Linked DNA regions of Homo sapiens: region 1 is linked to region 2. The links come from fine-mapping of genetic effects on plasma protein levels. Region 2 holds a variant in brackets. A gene starts in the other region. All regions are shown on their reverse strands. Region 1 holds the start of CLSTN3 (calsyntenin 3). Region 2 overlaps ATRX (ATRX chromatin remodeler).

Evidence for each region. PIP is the posterior inclusion probability: the model's chance that the variant is causal. The UK Biobank Pharma Proteomics Project read protein levels with antibody pairs (Olink). The fine-mapping took linkage between variants from a reference panel, not from the people measured, so its PIPs are less certain.
Region 1: CLSTN3 starts here. The variant in region 2 is fine-mapped to the plasma level of the CLSTN3 protein (UK Biobank, PIP above 0.99).

What each region holds. Positions count from the first base shown.
Region 1 is chr12:7,122,990-7,131,499 of GRCh38, reverse strand. It overlaps CLSTN3 (calsyntenin 3), which reads right to left and starts at 1,129. Exons shown (of 18, transcript NM_014718.4): 1 at 788-1,129. The coding sequence starts at 851. It overlaps RBP5 (retinol binding protein 5), which reads left to right and starts at 2,611. Exons shown (of 4, transcript NM_031491.4): 1 at 2,611-2,797; 2 at 3,082-3,260; 3 at 6,770-6,871; 4 at 7,326-7,814. The coding sequence starts at 2,725. The coding sequence ends at 7,379. RefSeq lists silencers at 113-182, 1,273-1,372 and an enhancer at 330-831.
Region 2 is chrX:77,671,514-77,679,513 of GRCh38, reverse strand. ATRX (ATRX chromatin remodeler) reads left to right here. Exons shown (of 35, transcript NM_000489.6): 10 at 3,216-3,288. Among named protein-coding and RNA genes, the nearest start is that of ATRX, 110 kb to the left of the region's middle. The variant G/A (reference allele first, on the strand shown) is at 4,431.

The DNA of each region.
Region 1 (8,510 bases), not on the chromosome of region 2:
TTACCCTTTTCCATCCCCTCCTTACCCCCTCCCACGCCTCATCTCCGGTCTTCTCCTTCTCAGCTTTCCCTCTCATACTCATTTAGCGCCCCCCACACACCCACTTCTGCCCTTTCCTGCCAGTCTCCATCCGTTTCCACCTACCTGAGCCCTCTGCCCGCAAGCCCTCCCTCCCGTCCTCCCTCTCCGTCTGTCCGACAGCCCCGCCCAGCTGAATGTATCCGCTGTCTGCCAGAGAGGGCAGCTCTGGTAACCCACAGCCCAGCTGATGCAGGCAAAAGGGTCTGAATGCAGAGGCACACGCAAAAAACATACGTGCTCCGAATTGCTGAACTGCAGCAAATACTTTCTCCCCAGGATGGGATGGAGGCGAAGCAGATGGATCTGCCACACACCCTTAGCATGCGCCAGTGAAAGGGAGAGCCGCGGGGAGAGGCCTATCACCGGCTCGGGGGCAGTCCTTCCCAGACCCGAGGTAGCCACCAGCGTGTAGAAATTAGGGGAAGGGGAGAATAGAGACCCCAGGACGGGAATGGAGACCAAATGGGAGCAAGATGACCAGCAAGAGAAACGCATGGGTAGAGATGGACCAGAAAGGAAGATGTAGCTGGGGGAAGAGAAAGAGAGGAGACGGAGCAGGTCTGAGAACGGATGGGAAGGAGGGTGATCAGAAGAGGGCCAGACACCTGTCAGGTGCCAGGGAGCCTCGACACCTCCTTCCCACCCCCACCCCGCACGGCGCTGCCCGACGCCCCTCTTTCGGTACCCCCACCCCCACCTCACTCACCTTTGTTACAGGAGCAGGACGCGAGCAGAGAGGCCAGCAGAAGGGGCAGCAGCAGGAGGGTCATGGTGCGGCGTGGGGCAGGGCAGGGCCAGGCGTTTGCCTCCCCTGGGAGCCTCCAGCCTGCGGATTCCACCTTGCGGGAGGGATACAGGGGGTCTCCAAGGAGCGGGGTACAGCAGGGCAGGGACGGAAAGGAGCCTGCCGCCCACACTAGTCCATAAAGCGGGCCTGGGCAGATCCCAATCTGGGTAGCTGAGGCGGTGGACTTGCAGCGGCTTCCCGTTTCCCCCAGCCCAGCGTCCTCACTCTCTCACTCCCACCCCAACCCCGCTACTGCAGGATGACGTCAGCACAGCCGGGCAACGATTGATGGGGCCGCCGGCCAATCAGGTGACTGGGAGGGGGGGGGACCAGGTGCTGCAGCGGGGGAGGGAGCCAATGAGACTGGGGCGTCGGGGCTGGAGAGTTTCAAGGCTCCTTCCCCTGGCTGCAATTTTGGGGGAGCCGAGGAACTGCGGGGGCTGGGGAGGAAGCTGGAGAGCCACGGAGGGGGTGGGAAAGAAGAGGGACGTGGGGAGAAAGAAGCCAGAAGCCAGGGGGTGGGGAAGAGAGACGTCAGCGGGACCTGAGGGCGGCCAGGAGGGGTGGCACCGCGTCACCCCGCCCCCCAACTCTGCCATAACCTGTTTCCACAGCCCCTTCCATCCACAGATCCGTGCTGCGTGCCCTCTGGGAAGGGTGAAGTAAAACCCTCAGTCTGAGCCTGAGAAATCCTGGCATTTGTAGCCCAGGGCTGCGAGGAAGCCACAGGGCGGTCCGCAGGGCGGTATCGAGGCTCTGGGACCCAAGGAGGGGCAGGACGTCGTGCACCCCTCGCGCACGCACCTGTCGGGACCGGCCGCCTCCTCCTGCCTACCTGTCCTGCCTCCTTCGCCCCGAATTTCACCTTAAACCATGATGAACCAAGCCCAGTGGATTCTGAAGCCCGGGACGATGGCAGGTTCGAGAGAGAATTGGGCAGCTGGGGGCGGGGCACAATATTATTTAGGCGCCTCCACCCCACCTTCACAGAAATACATCTGGAAAGCATGGGCTGTCCTAGGGCTGGGGACTGGGGGTTACGGTCTCATCGATGACTCAGAGGGAGAGAAAACCCCCTGGGTCCCAAGCCAAAAAGAATAAAATTCTCCAGAATAGCCAACAAACTCCTCTCAGGCTGTCTGTTCCGGACTTTGAACTCAGCACCCCTCGGGCTCCACCTCCCTCCTAATGGCTCTTTAGGACCAAGAGTCTGGAATGCCACTTTGGGGTCCCAGTTGAGCACACTACCTGAGGGAGCTCTGAGAGCCAGGCCTACAGGGTGCTCTTCATGGTGGCAGCTGGCCATCCTCACCCCCTCCCCTCACATCTTCCAACATCACTCAGTCCCAGGATCTCAGGATATTGTTGGAACTCATCTCCACCTCACACAGCCAGACCAGCCTCAGGTGTCTCCCAGGAAAGACTGCCCCTCAGGCCCTGGGACGGTTCCCAAGCCTGCCAGAAATGAGGTGGAGGCCAACACTGACCTTTGGATGGCTGAGTTTTGGATGACTGACAGCCCCAGATCCTGCTCCAGGTTCCTTCCTCAGGAAGGATCCTGCTCCAGGTTCCTTCCTCAGGAAAAGCCAAGGTCAGGCGCAACTTTGCCAAATCCCTGCCCCTCCTTCAGGCTGGAGACACCACCCCCAAACTCACCATGCGGGGAGGGAAGAAGTCTGGTAGGGACTCTTATTGCAACAGGGCCCCAGCCTTATAAAAAGCCCTGGTAACCCGGCCATTACACATCCTGTCTCTGTGTGTGGAGCTGGCTGGAATCTCTCAGCCTCACCTGCCAGACAACACCCCCTCCTTCCTCACCCTGTCTCCTGCATTCTCCTGAAACCTTCATCCACACAATGCCTCCCAACCTCACTGGCTACTACCGCTTTGTCTCGCAGAAGAACATGGAGGACTACCTGCAAGCCCTAAGTAATGGCCTCGCCCTCCCAGACCCCTGTCACTCCCTTTCTCCCCTCTTCCTTCCTGCTTCTTGGTCCCATGGAGAAGAGGGAATGCCCGGGGTTGGACACTGTGGAAAGGCTCAGGCGGCTGGCACCAGACCTGGGATCCATTTCTAACCAGGCATTGGTAGGAGGGGGTGAATCCACAGTCCCAGACCCAAAGAAGGGAAACTCACAGCCCTGAGGGGCTGCTGCAGGCAGAGGAGCTCCTGGCTGGCTAGCAGCACCCCTACTAACAGGCAGCCCCCACAGACATCAGCTTGGCTGTGCGGAAGATCGCGCTGCTGCTGAAGCCGGACAAGGAGATCGAACACCAGGGCAACCACATGACGGTGAGGACGCTCAGCACCTTCCGAAACTACACTGTGCAGTTTGATGTGGGAGTGGAGTTTGAGGAGGACCTCAGGAGCGTGGACGGACGAAAATGCCAGGTACATTTCCCCTGGCTGGGCGGTGGCCGGAAGGAGGCATCACAGGAGACTCCTAACAACATGGGGCAAAACAAAGTGACCTTCCCCAGCCAGAGCAGCGGGGAGGAGGGGAATGGTCACCACAGCAGGGAATGCAGTCCCCAGGATACCAGTCTCCAGAACTAACAGGTCCTGGTGCTCCCTGTCTCTCTCCCACTTCTTCCCTGCCCCCTCTTATCACCAGCCCAAAGGGCAAAGAACAGGCCAACCCAGACCGAAGAGCAAACATTTGCCCACCCTCCAGCCTGTGACACTGTTGGTCACCCAGAGTCCCTTTTACTTTAGCATCAATAACTTCACTCTCCTGCATTTCTTTCTACTTCTTACATATTCCTTCTTAGCCTCCTTTGCAGATCCTAGTCCTCCTATTAATCCTTTAAACTGGAGTTTTCTCCGCAGAGTTTTGTTCTTAATGTCTTCTCCCTTTTGTCTGCCCACTATCCATAGGCTAAATCATCTACACCCATGCCTTCTGCTTCCATCTATAGGCTGCCCTTGGCATGAATTCTCCAGCCAGAGCCATCTCCTGAGCTCCAGGGCAATGTTTTCAACTGCCTACAAAATACAGTTGGCCCTCCATATTCATGGGTTCTGCATCCACAGCTTCAGCAAACTGCAAATGGAAAAATATTTGGGAAAAATAAAAATAAAAAATAACAATACAAAATGATACAAATAAAAAACAATACAGTATAGCAACTATTTACAGAGCATGTACATTGCATTAGGTATTATAAGTAATCTAGAGATGATTTAAAGCATATGGGAAAAGGCTGGGCGTGGTGGCTCACACCCATAATCCCAAGACTTTGGGAGGCTGAGGCAGGCAGATCACTTGAGGCCAGGAGTTCAAGACCAGCCTGGCCAACATGGTGAAACCTCATCTCTACTAAAAATACATAAATTAGGCCAGGTGCAGTGGCTCACACCTGTAATCCCAGTACTTTGGGAGGCCAAGGCGGGCGGATCACCTGAGGTCAAGAGTTCGAGACCAGCCTGACCAACATGGAGAAACCCCATCTCTACTAAAAATACAAAAAATTAGGCAGGCATGGTGGCGCATGCCTGTAATCCCAGCTACTCAGGAGGCTGAGGCAGAAGAATCACTTGAACCTGGGAGGCAGAGGTTGCAGTGAGCCAAGATCGCACCACTGCACTCCAGCCTGGGCAACAAGAGCGAAATTCTATCTCAAAAAAAAAAAAAAAAAAAAATACAAAAGTACAAAAATTAGCCGGGCATGGTGGCGCATGCCTGTAATCCCAGCTACTTGGGAGGCTGAGGCAGGAGAATTACTTGAACCCGGGAGCCAGAGGTTGCAGTGAGCCAAGATCATGCCATTGCATTCTAGTCTGGGTGACAGAGCAAGACTCTGTATCAAAATGATAATAATAAAGTACACAGGGGGATGTATGTAGTTTCTCTACAGATACTAAGCCATTTTATTCAGCAGATTTAGTGAGGTGGGGGTCCTGGAACCAATTTCCATTTGAATGCCAAGGTCAAATTCAAATTCACTGTCTTCCTATCCAAACCTACCCCACTTTTATATCTACTCTCTCCACTAATGGCAATAACCAGCCAGGCCAGAGACCTGGGAGTCATGGTCAATATCTCTTGTTTCCTTACCTCTAGGCTCCCAGCACACACACACACACACACACACACACACACACACACACACACACACACCACCACCACCACCACCACCACATCTAATCGGCCAAGAAATCTTTGTAGCTTTTCTGCATTACCCAGTATAGCAGCTGCTAACTTCAGATGGCCGTTGAATACTTGAAATATAACTAGTCCAAATCTAGATGCTGTAAGTGGACTTTCAGACAATGCCAAATAAAAAGAAGCATTTCGGAAATGTTTATATTGGCTGCATGCCGAAATAATAATATTTTGAATATTTTTGGTTAACTAAAATATATTATTTAAATTAATTTCCCCTATTTCTCTTTACTTTTCTAATATGGCTCCTGACCCATTTTATTTCTGTTGAGCATCACTCTTCTAAATGGCTCTCCTGTGTTCCCTCCTAACCTTTCTCTATCACCACCCTAATTCAGGCCTTCATTTCCTGGTGCCTGAAATTGCTTTTTTGTGTTTTTGTGTTTTTTTTTTTTTGGTAGAGGTGGGGTCTCACTGTGTTGCCCAGGCTGGTCTCAAACTCTTGACTTCAAGTGATTCTCCCGCCTCAGCCTCCCAAATGCTGAGATTACGGGCCTAAGCCACTGCACCCAGCTGGTTCTCACGCTTAACCCTCCTCTAATCTGCATGCTGTAGCCACAGGGTCTACTTAAAACATAAATGTGATCATGTCACTCTCTGACTTACACCCTTTCAGTGATGATCTATTACATTACATCATCTGTTACACTTAACTCAGCATACAAGGGTCTCTGTGAATCAACTCTTCAATTGCCTCCACCACATATACTCTAGGTTAGAGCCCTTCAGAACTAATTGCCTTTCTCTTTTACCGCTATTTCTAGCTGTTTCTTTCCTTGCTAGAAATTTCCCATTCTCTCCAATCTAATTAACTCCCAACTTCCTTAAAGATTTCACTCTGCCCGCCCCACTGCCATCCCTCACTCTTGCCTGGTGTCACAGTTACCTATTTACTGATCCTCTATCTCTTCAAGACTCTGAGCTCCTTGTTTGGGGCCTATCCTAAAGGAGAACTCAATAAAGGTTGATTGGAATGCTCAGGCCCAGAGGGGCTGACCCTTTATTTCTAAGGATACTTCAGCTGTTCTTGAAACCGAGAAAGAGGAGAAATGAGATTACCTGGTAGGATTCCCAACCAATCTCTCTTTTTTCTCAAAAGTCCCTCTAGGTCAGCCAGAAGTATCCAGAGGAAAAAGTCTCCATTCTTCATAAATGCCCTCCCCAATTTCACCTCTACTTATCCTGCTACCACCCCTGCTCTCCCCTAAAGGTCACTGTAGACAACTTTGGGCCCCCCTCGGTGACCTTTAGGAGTGGAAAGCTGGGTGTGATGGTTCATGCCTATAGTCACAGCACTTTAGGAAGCGGTGGCGGGCGGATCACTTGAGCTCAGGAGTTTAAGTCCAGCCTGGCCAACATGGAGAAACCCTGTCTCTACTAAAAATACAAAAATTAACCCGGTATGTTGGTGCACGCCTGTAATCCCAGCTACTCTGGTAGCTGAGGCATGAGATTCACTTGAACCCAGGAGGCAGAGGTTGCAGTGAGCCGAGATCCTGCCACTGCACTCCAGCCTGGGTGACAGAGCAAGAACTTGTCTCAAAAAAACACAAAAAACAAAGAGTAGGGTGGAAAGGGAGTCCTGCTGAATCAGAGCAGCTCCCTCGCTCAGTGGAGGGGCTGCAGCAGACAGTATCTGCTGTGGAGTAAAAGGGGGAGCCCATTCAGAGTGAGATGGGAAGCATTTTGAGTGTCCTGCCTCCTAATCTTTCTTTACTCCCTCTTTCCCCTATAGACCATAGTAACCTGGGAGGAGGAGCACCTGGTGTGTGTGCAGAAAGGGGAGGTCCCCAACCGGGGCTGGAGACACTGGCTGGAGGGAGAGATGCTGTATCTGGTAAATGGGGTGGGGGCTGGGTGTCTGGGAGAAGGGCCTCCAGCTATAAGGCATCCCCTTGTCCAAACCAGATAGGTCCACCACTCTTCCCCCAGCCCAGCCCCAATCCCTATCCAAGGAATTGACCAGGGAGGGAAAGCAAAAGCACTGGGAGGAGTGGGGAGAGGAAGAAACAGAGTGGCCAAGGTGGGCCCTGGCTACGAGTCGGATGAATGCCCATAAATCATCACTGGCGAGATGGAGGCTTCAGCCACTCACATCCCCTGACCCAGCCACCTTCCTTCCTGAGGGGTGGAAAGTTGAGGATGTGGAATAATGATACAATTGCCCATACATCAAACACTCAAGCTGCTGTATCCGGAAGGAGTAAATGGAGGTCAAGGACCTTGAGAAAGGGGCTCTGGCTGGCAAACGCCCTCTTTCTCTCTCCCCCTCACTTCCCCTCTCTCCCCAGGAACTGACTGCAAGGGATGCAGTGTGCGAGCAGGTCTTCAGGAAGGTCAGATAGCCGGAGAGGAGCCAAGATCCCTCCAGACAGCACCAGCTCACAGACGCTCTTGTTGTGCCCCCTTCAAGCCCAGATTGTGCCAGGTCAGCTGTCCCTTCCTCTGGCCACCTTTCCTCCCTCTGGGTCCCTCCTCACCCCTCCCCGTGTTAATCTGTAACTTGCAGCCCCCAGGCCAAAGTCCTTTCTCACACTCCACTGCCCAATAGTGACCTCACTTCCAGGTCAAGGTCTGGCGTCCCAAATGAAAGAAGCAGGCAAAGGGAAGGAGCCCCTGAGAACAACCAATCTCCGCTCTCTCCTGTCCATTTGACCTCTTCTTTTCCTTCTAAGAAAGAACTAAGCTTTGGGCATTTGGCGATTAGTGAAAATTCTATCCTGATGGACTTCTGGAAAACTGTGACTGGGGTTCAAGAGTTTAAACAGGGGCTACTGGCAGAGTCTTTTTGTCCATTTCTTTGTCCTTATCCTTGAGAAAGTCTCATGTGCTCAACAAAACCAGGCCCAAGACACAGCCCCCCACACACAGGGTTCAACGGACTCCACGGTTCTGACATCTGAAGGCATCTGGCCATTTGATACTTCCATCCTATGTGTTGGGAATGAGGGATGGAATGGGGTAAGACCTTTGTCCAGTGCTTGGGGAGGCGGGGAGCTTCTAAATGGTGACCTGTCCTCCGTGTCTGCTTTGGGAAGGGCAAGCAGCAAGAAAGCCAGAAAAAGCTGAAAAAGGAAGTAGACGGAGGATGTGAGGTCAAGGAATAAAAGACAGTAATACAGGGGTGTGAAGGCATAGGAGGGAGAAGCCCAGCAGTCCTGGCTATAGGGACCCTCTGCTCAAAGGCCAGCAAGGCTGGAGACCAGAGATAAAGAGGAGAGCTGAGGACAGCAAGGGTCCCAGAGTTGCTGCCTTGGAAAACAGCCCAGAAGGGTGGAGCTGGCTCAGGGTCAAGGCCAGCTCCAGCCTCTGGCCTCCTCTCCACCTCCAGGGGCCTTGGCTCTTTCAGAATAAAAGTCCTAGGGGGCCCAACTATCAGAGTGAAGAGGGCTCAATGTGAGGGTGGGAAAAGAGCCTGGGGGAAGGGTTGAGGGAGTTGGAAAGTCCCTGGCCCTCATCAGATGAAGACTCTTGAC
Region 2 (8,000 bases):
TGGCAAATACTCAATTGATGCATCTCTTGATAATTACTTATCTCAGCACTGATCTAGATCACTGTGTTCCATTTTGATTTATTTAACTTTGATCTGAAGGACAAATAGGCTGATGGGGAGTAAACTTTTTCTCAGGTGTGTATCAAGAGAAACTTTGAGAATTCGTCACTTCAGCAAATTCCAATCCTTCAACTGCTTGGTGAAATAAGCCTTGTTGAGATTTTCTTTACCCTGGATATTTTTGGGGGCTAAGCTGATTATTTGGGATGAAATAAGAAAGAAGATAAATTTGTTAGGGAATTTAACCTGTGAAAAATTGGGCCTTGTCAATAGAAACAAGTAGAATAGAATATGAGTGCCTTGAAAATAAGCGCTGTAAAAAGTTCTGTTTTTAAAGATAAGTTTGCGTGTGAGCCAGTGTTATGATATTCCTTCAGAATTTACTTACATGCTTATGTAAGCATGCTGAATTTATGTACTCCTCTGTCTAACTTAATTTTAGGTCACAGTTTTAGAAGGTTAAAAGAAAAACCCTGCCCCCTATTGAGTTTAGAGGATTCCAGTTTATTCGCAGTATTTGGGTATCATATTACAGCTACAGTATTTTCCTAGAAATTGGGGCTTGGTAATGGCATGAATAACCAAGATGAAGAACATGGTCCTAGGAGATTGCAGTTTAATGCAAGACAGACATAGAGAAATCATTAAAAAAAGTAACAGAAGAAAGATATAAAACTAGAATGGGGCCTGTAATCCCAGCACTTTGGGAGGCCAAGGTGGGTGGATTATCTGAGGTCAGTAGTTCAAAACCAGCCTGGCCAACATGGTGAAACCCCATCTCTACTAAAAATACAAAAAAATTAGCCAGGTGTAGTGGCGCACACCTGTAATCCCAGCTACTTGGGAGGCTGAGGCAGGAGAATCGCTTGAACCCAGGAGATGGAGATTGCAGTGAGCCACGATCGCGCCACTGCACTTGAGCCTGGGCGACAGAGCGAGACTCCGTCTCAAAACAGAAACAGCAACAAACACAACAAACTATAATGGGGCTACACAATAAATGGCAAGTGAACTACTTAAATATTTGGGGAAATATTTAGAAGAATAGTTGGCATTTGAACTTCAAAGGATAGGTCAAATTTTGAAAGGTGTAGTAAAGAGGGAGTGACAGTACTGTTACTAATTATATTTCATTTGAAGATTGGTCTGTTTGAATGAGATATTTATTGTGAGTTTGCTGGGATATTATGAAATCTCTTCTCTCTCTCTGTCTGTCTCTTTTTTTTTTTTTTGAGTTGAAGTCTCACTCTGCCACCCAGGCTGGAGTGCAGTGGTGCAATCTCGGCTCACTGCAATCCCTGCTCACTGCAACCTCTGCCTTCCGGGTTCAAGCGATTCTCATGCCTCAGGCTCCTGGGTAGCTGAGATTACAGGTGCATGCCACCACATTGGCTAATTTTTGTATTTTCAGTAGAGACAGGGTTTCTCCATGTTGGCCAGGCTGGCCTCGAGCTCCTGACCTCAAGTGATCCGCCTGCCTCAGCCTCTCAAAATGCTGGCATTACAAGCTTGAGCCACCACGCCTGGCCTTATTTAGTGTATTTCTATCCTGAGCCTGTAGGTGTCTGTTTCCTTTATAGATTTTTTCCTCCATTTCCCTTCAACATTTTATTGTGAAAAACATTTAAGTATACACCAAAGCATCTACCATTAATATTATACTGTATTTTCTTGATAACATATCTATATATCCTTCTGTCTATCCATCAGTATATCTTTTTTTTGCCTTTTTAGCTTTTTATTTTGCATAATTATAAATCCACAGAAATTTGTAAAAAAAAAAAAAAATACAGGGAGGTCTCAGATAACCTTTACTTAGTTTCCCTCAAGGGTAATATCTTGTAACTCTAGTACAGTGTCAAAACCAGAAAACTGAAGATTTATTCAGATTTCACCAGTTTCACATGCACTCATTTGTGTGTGTATAAGTATAGTTCAGTGCAGTTGTACCACGTGTGTATCTTTGTATAATCACCACCACAACCGATATATCAAACCAGTTCCATTATCACAAGGCTCCCTTGTGATACTGCTGTCCTTACCTCCATTCCTGACATCTGGCAACTAGTAATCTGTTCTTTATCACTGTAATTTTGCTATTTTGAAATGGAATCATGAAGTATATAACCTTTTGAGATTGGCTTTTTTCACTTAGTATAATACCCTTAAAATCTTTGATGCATTTCAGATTAAACGGTAGACATCAGCATACTTCTCCTGAAACACTTAAGCATGCATAGTATTAACCTACAGTTTAATATTTCAGTTTTTCTTTTGAAGTAAAATTTATATAGAATGAAATGCCCAAATCTTAACCTCTTTAGATTTTTTTTTTTTTTTTGAGAGAGTTGTTACCCAGGCTGGAGTGCCGTGGTGCGATCTTGGCTTACTGAAACCTCCGCCTCCCAGGTTCAAGTGATTCTCCTGCCTCAGCCTCCCTAGTAGCTGGGATTACAGGCACACACCACCATGGCTGGTTAATTTTTGTGTTTTTAGTAGAGACGGGATTTTGCCATGTTGGCCAGGCTGGTCTGGAACTCCTGACCTCAGGTGATCCGCTTGCCTTGGCTTCCCAAAGTGCTGGGATTACAGGCGTGCGCCACCTCACCCGGCCCTCTTTAGATTTTTAATCAAAATATAGAAATGCAGCTTTTTATAAGAAAATAAGTTTTACTGTACTGAACTGTATCTCTGGGTAACTCAGGTCACAAATACCATACACATTCAACTGCATTTTAAAATTACTTGCTACTACCAAAATATTAATACTGTTTTTGCTATTCCTCGAAGATACAGCACCAGTTAACGTCAAAATTAAAATGGACCAGTACGAAGGTTATTGTGGCAAGAAACTTATGCTAATATGATGGCTGTTGATACAGAATTGTTACTGAGAAGGGTGGACTTTAAAAGCCTTGTGCCCTGGGAAGGAACTCTGAAATATATAAGGTCCAGCTATTTATCATTTTACTGCTGGCACTTCACAAATAACCTGTTATGTTTTCTATAAGAATGCTTTTTACTCATATTTTGGAGTCCAGAGTTTAGACCCCACTTAGTTTGCTTTAAAGTTTTTGGCTTTCAGTTTTATTTTACATGGTTTTAATTATATAGCTTATTTAAAGCTAATTTTAAGTACACTTTTTTCCCTCAAGGAGATGAAGCCTTATCTAAATCAGTGCCTGTCACAGTGGATGATGATGATGACGACAATGATCCTGAGAATAGGTATGATTCCATCTGTAAGGACTTTAAAAAGATTATAACACACCCTAGGCATGGGCACAAACAGCAGCAACGGAACAGCAAGCAGGTTGTAAAAACCAGGAGTGCCTGCCTTAGAAAGACTCGCTCACAGTCTTCCTGCAAGTTTGAAAGAAAGGCCAGAAAATGGGCTAAAACTCAGAAACCTTAAGAGAAAGTAATATCATTATTTACACACCTAGCATAGGGTGTGTTATAAATACAGAACTGTCAATTTTATGTTGCTATGTAAACTGCAGTAATTTTTTTGGAATAATTTATTTTGACAGATTATTGATGAAAGTAAATCATATCTCAGTAAATTGGTAACAACAGACATCTCCTCTATATTTGACTATTGTTAATTGCCATCCAATATGGTGGTCCTATTTATTAAGGCCTGTTGAGAAGAAACAAAAAGAGAGATTACTCAGATATTTAAGATTAAGAAATTGCTTTCAAAATAAGTGTCAGTTTACAAGGTATCTAGACTGAGTTAGAGTTTAACCAGTTTTCAAATAAAATAGAAATACACGGTATGAGAGCATTTACTTTAATAAGACTTAATAGGTTTAAATGTCAACAGTGTAGCCTATACAGATATACTTAAGTAAGGGGTGGCTGGGTGAAGAAAAAAAAAGACACTATCAGTGTAGTGAAGAATAAGGAAAACAACAGTATTAAAGACTATAGCTATAATGTTTCAACATAACTTTTAAACACTTCCTGGACAATAGCATACCCCATGCTCATAATCTTCAACAAGAAGACAGCATGGTATAGTGCATGGAATTTTGGAATAATGGGCATAAGGGTATCTGATTTCTAACATTTTTAACAACTGTCTGTGTCATCATGGGCAAGTGACTTTACTTTTTGTCAAAAATTTACTATATTTAAGAAGAAAAAGTTGGGCGAAATTTTCTGTAATTCTAGTACCAAAAAATCCATGATAGATTTGAGATGATTTCATTAAAGAGCACTACATTAACCATTCATTTATTCCTAATAGTAAGTTCTAACATTAAGAAAACATAAAAATATACATGTAATTTTCTGTCATAATTTTGTAAGAAATTAACTGACTTAGTAAATGCCCTGGGTTCAGCTGTTAGTTTCGCTCTTTT[G/A]TATCTTGCTGATGCTGTTAGGTTTCTCTGTTTCAAAGGTCAGCATTCTGCTAATTAACAGAAGAATGTTTTTATTAAGGTGAATGAACAGTTTTATTTTACAGTTTTGAATAGAGCTTAATTGTGGACACAAATATTCAGATTCTGCTTGCCTACTTTTTTAAATTAAAAAATGTATATCCATTTATTTTATGGGATAGGTGGTAGGTTCCAGAATGGAGTGATAAGGGCATACAATTTATTCATCAGGGATTTTACATTATATCATCACAGCCAGATACTGAAAGCATTTAAAATTTTACTCTTTTTTAAGATGCTTTAATTTTTCTTCATTTATATTTGCTATTTGATTTTCTATACATCATGAGGCCTCAGATGTTACTCAAAGGCTAATAATGTTTTAAACATTCTATATCTTAATTTAACTGTGAATGATTTACTTTAATTTCATATTTAACCACCAAATAAGAGTGTTGTTAAGGTATAATTTTTTTGTGTGTGTTAGAGCTTGTCAAAATATAAATATCATTTTCAACTTTTAAGTTACCTGATCGTATCTCTCTGTAACTGGCAAGTATTTTATTGGAAAGTATCTTTAATTCCACCTTGAATTTGTGATTAAAAAATACAACCCTGTTGAGTACTTTTGAGAAGAATTGAATTTTATCTTGAGCATGTCTTTCTATACTCAGTTTAATTTGTTTTTATAAAATATACAATTTATTAACTTGTTTAATATTCACTATACCAAAGAGGTATCTAATACCCATGGGTTATGTAGTCATGATGGGGATACAAATACTTTCTTGCACTATTTTAGTATAGATTATATATTTGAGCATATTTGAATATGCACTAAGCAACTTAAAAAATTCATTTGCAGATCACGATTAAGTCTTAGAATTATTTTTCTAACTTCCTAATTTTTGAGTAGGTTGTATTTTGGTAGACAGCATATTGTAATTGTATGTAAATTTGTACACAATTGTGTGTAAATTGTGTATAAATCTTATATGCTTTGTCTTTTTAGCAGTATTGTAATACATTTTCAGTGTTGGTGTTTATGAAGCGATAGTGTATTATTGCAAATGGTTAACTATTTGGATGCAATAAATTTTTGTAAACCTTTTTTCTTGTTCAAGCATTTAATTTTAATAATAATGTTACTTTTTTATATCATGAGAGTTGACATAATTTGTTATTAAAATATAGAGGCTAGTTTGTAGCCAAAGAAGTTTTGAAATTTTGAAATTTAGGACGTAAATACTTTTAATTCCCCTAACATATATACTTATATATATTTGTGTGAAAGTTTTACAACAGATTTAACTACTATTTACTTTTTCTGTTTTAAAGCTATGATGGCTTTTGGGGGCATTTAAAAAACTTAGTCATATCCTGAATATTTTAGTAAATGTGAATACATTTCTGTTTTAGCATGCTATTATGTAGCGTCACTCATATTTGAAAGTAAATGTATAATATTATGAGACAGTGGTCTAACCTATAAATTAATTTCTATTTAATTGGATTTACTTAATGAACAAGGACAGAATATTATAGATTGATCAACACTTGTATGTTTCTGGTTTAGCTTTTTATAAAAAAAAGTAGACTAATCATATATTTTGAATTTTATATAACTGAAAATTTAGAGCTTAGGCTTTATGTAGTTTCTCAATGGCAGAATAATAATACCAAATAGGTTGTCAGGTTTTCACATTTATACACGTAATTTTAAAGTAATATACTTGAAAGTGCCATTAGGGTAGGGTTTCATTGGCCTTTCAAATACCTGTTAGTTGGATTTTAAATTGGTTCTTTCTCTGAAAAGACATCTATTCATATAATTTATTTCAATTCAATAATTAGCCTGGCATTGAAAATACACCATAATTCCTTTATATGTTCAATATAACTGGGGATATTTTGACCAAACATTTTCTAATAATATCATATATTTTAATTTAATATCTGTACTGGGAATGAGCCTCAAGTAATACGATAGTAGTGTGTTCAAGTTTTAACAGTATTAGTTTTGAGGATCATTAAACTAGGCTTGTCTTTAGAGATTGCATACTGAACAATCACTGAAGAGACCATTTATCCCAAAAAAGAATTATCTTTTGAAATTTCTTTATTCGCTTATTTTGCAGGATGTGAGAAATATTTACAATTGAGCTTTTGAGAGCAAAAGACCAAAGTGCTAGGTTTTTCTAAATAAGCATTCTTTCTCCCTGACAACTTTGACTAAGAGCTGAGATTTCTACATGGATGTCTGCTCCCCTAACAAACACATTTACTTTATTGTTGAAATGTGCTTAATTGGGTCTAGTAATACTCCACATTTTTTCTCATAATTTCTCTGTGGGTGCGACTAAATGCTTTTTTTTTCATAGAAGCGAAATTTGATGTGGAGATTGCTAAAAAAAATTGTCCCATTGTTATATTTAATTATATTGGGACTAGACCATAGCATTTTAAATTTCCAACTGTTGTTGTATCATTTGATGATAATTTTGTGTTTCAAACTAGAAAATATGCTAATGATTTTTTTTTTTCCTACTGGCTTGGTGTGGGTATGCTGTTGATGACGGCTCTGTATTGTTAATCCAGCATATTTTCGGAGGAAACTAATGATTTCTGGATGTTATTTATGCCTAAGAAGATATTTAATGATTGTTTACCTGATTTCAGCACAATTAATGGCATGGATGTATCACAAGTCCCTTAATCGTTTGATGTTCACTTTGCTTTCATTTTAAACACTTTTTCAAATGTCTGTCTCCTACACATGTTGTCTATTCTCTATGCAAATTTGCTAAATTTGGAATAATTTTTTTCTGTGATTTTTTTTTTGTGGTAGTTCTGTTTCGTTAGCAAAACTGCTTTGATTCTCCTTTATTGTACTTGAAAAACAAAGGTGGCGTTTTAAATTAAGTATTTTACTTGTTTTTCCATTTGAGTAAGGGTTTTAAATATCTAGCAATTTTACGGTAATTTTTTTTTCAATTTCCTTTGTCTGTATAGCACAGGTAAGTATTGCAAGTCATTTAAGTATAACACAGGTGTCCAGCCAGTAGATAGGATCTACTTGTAGATATCTGAACTGGCTGTAGTTGTTACTGGCTTTCTTTTTTCTACTAGAATTCCCAGTCAGGAAAGACATATGATGTGTAGTGGTGACCTTTGTCCTTCTATGGTCAAGATTTAAACATTATAACCAGTGTTTCTTTCTTGTTCTCTGTTCTTTGGTGATATTGGGACTTTCAGAAAATAAGAAATAGGTCTTCCTCAAAAAAGAAAAAAAAGAAAAAGAGAAAAAGGAAGAGTTTGGATTTCTAGTGTTAGGAAAAGTGATTCATTTTTCTGACTTAATATCCTTTGTCTTTAACTTTGAAATTTCAAAATAAAATTTTGAAATTTGAGATGAGTAAATTCTGTGTTTTCATTTTTCAAGTATAAAAATATTGAACTAGTTATTTAATATGATCAAATTTCCCATATTAATTTGAATATATTTTTTCTTGTTAAAATGCCTCTAAAACTGGTTTAGATTTTTGTATAAAA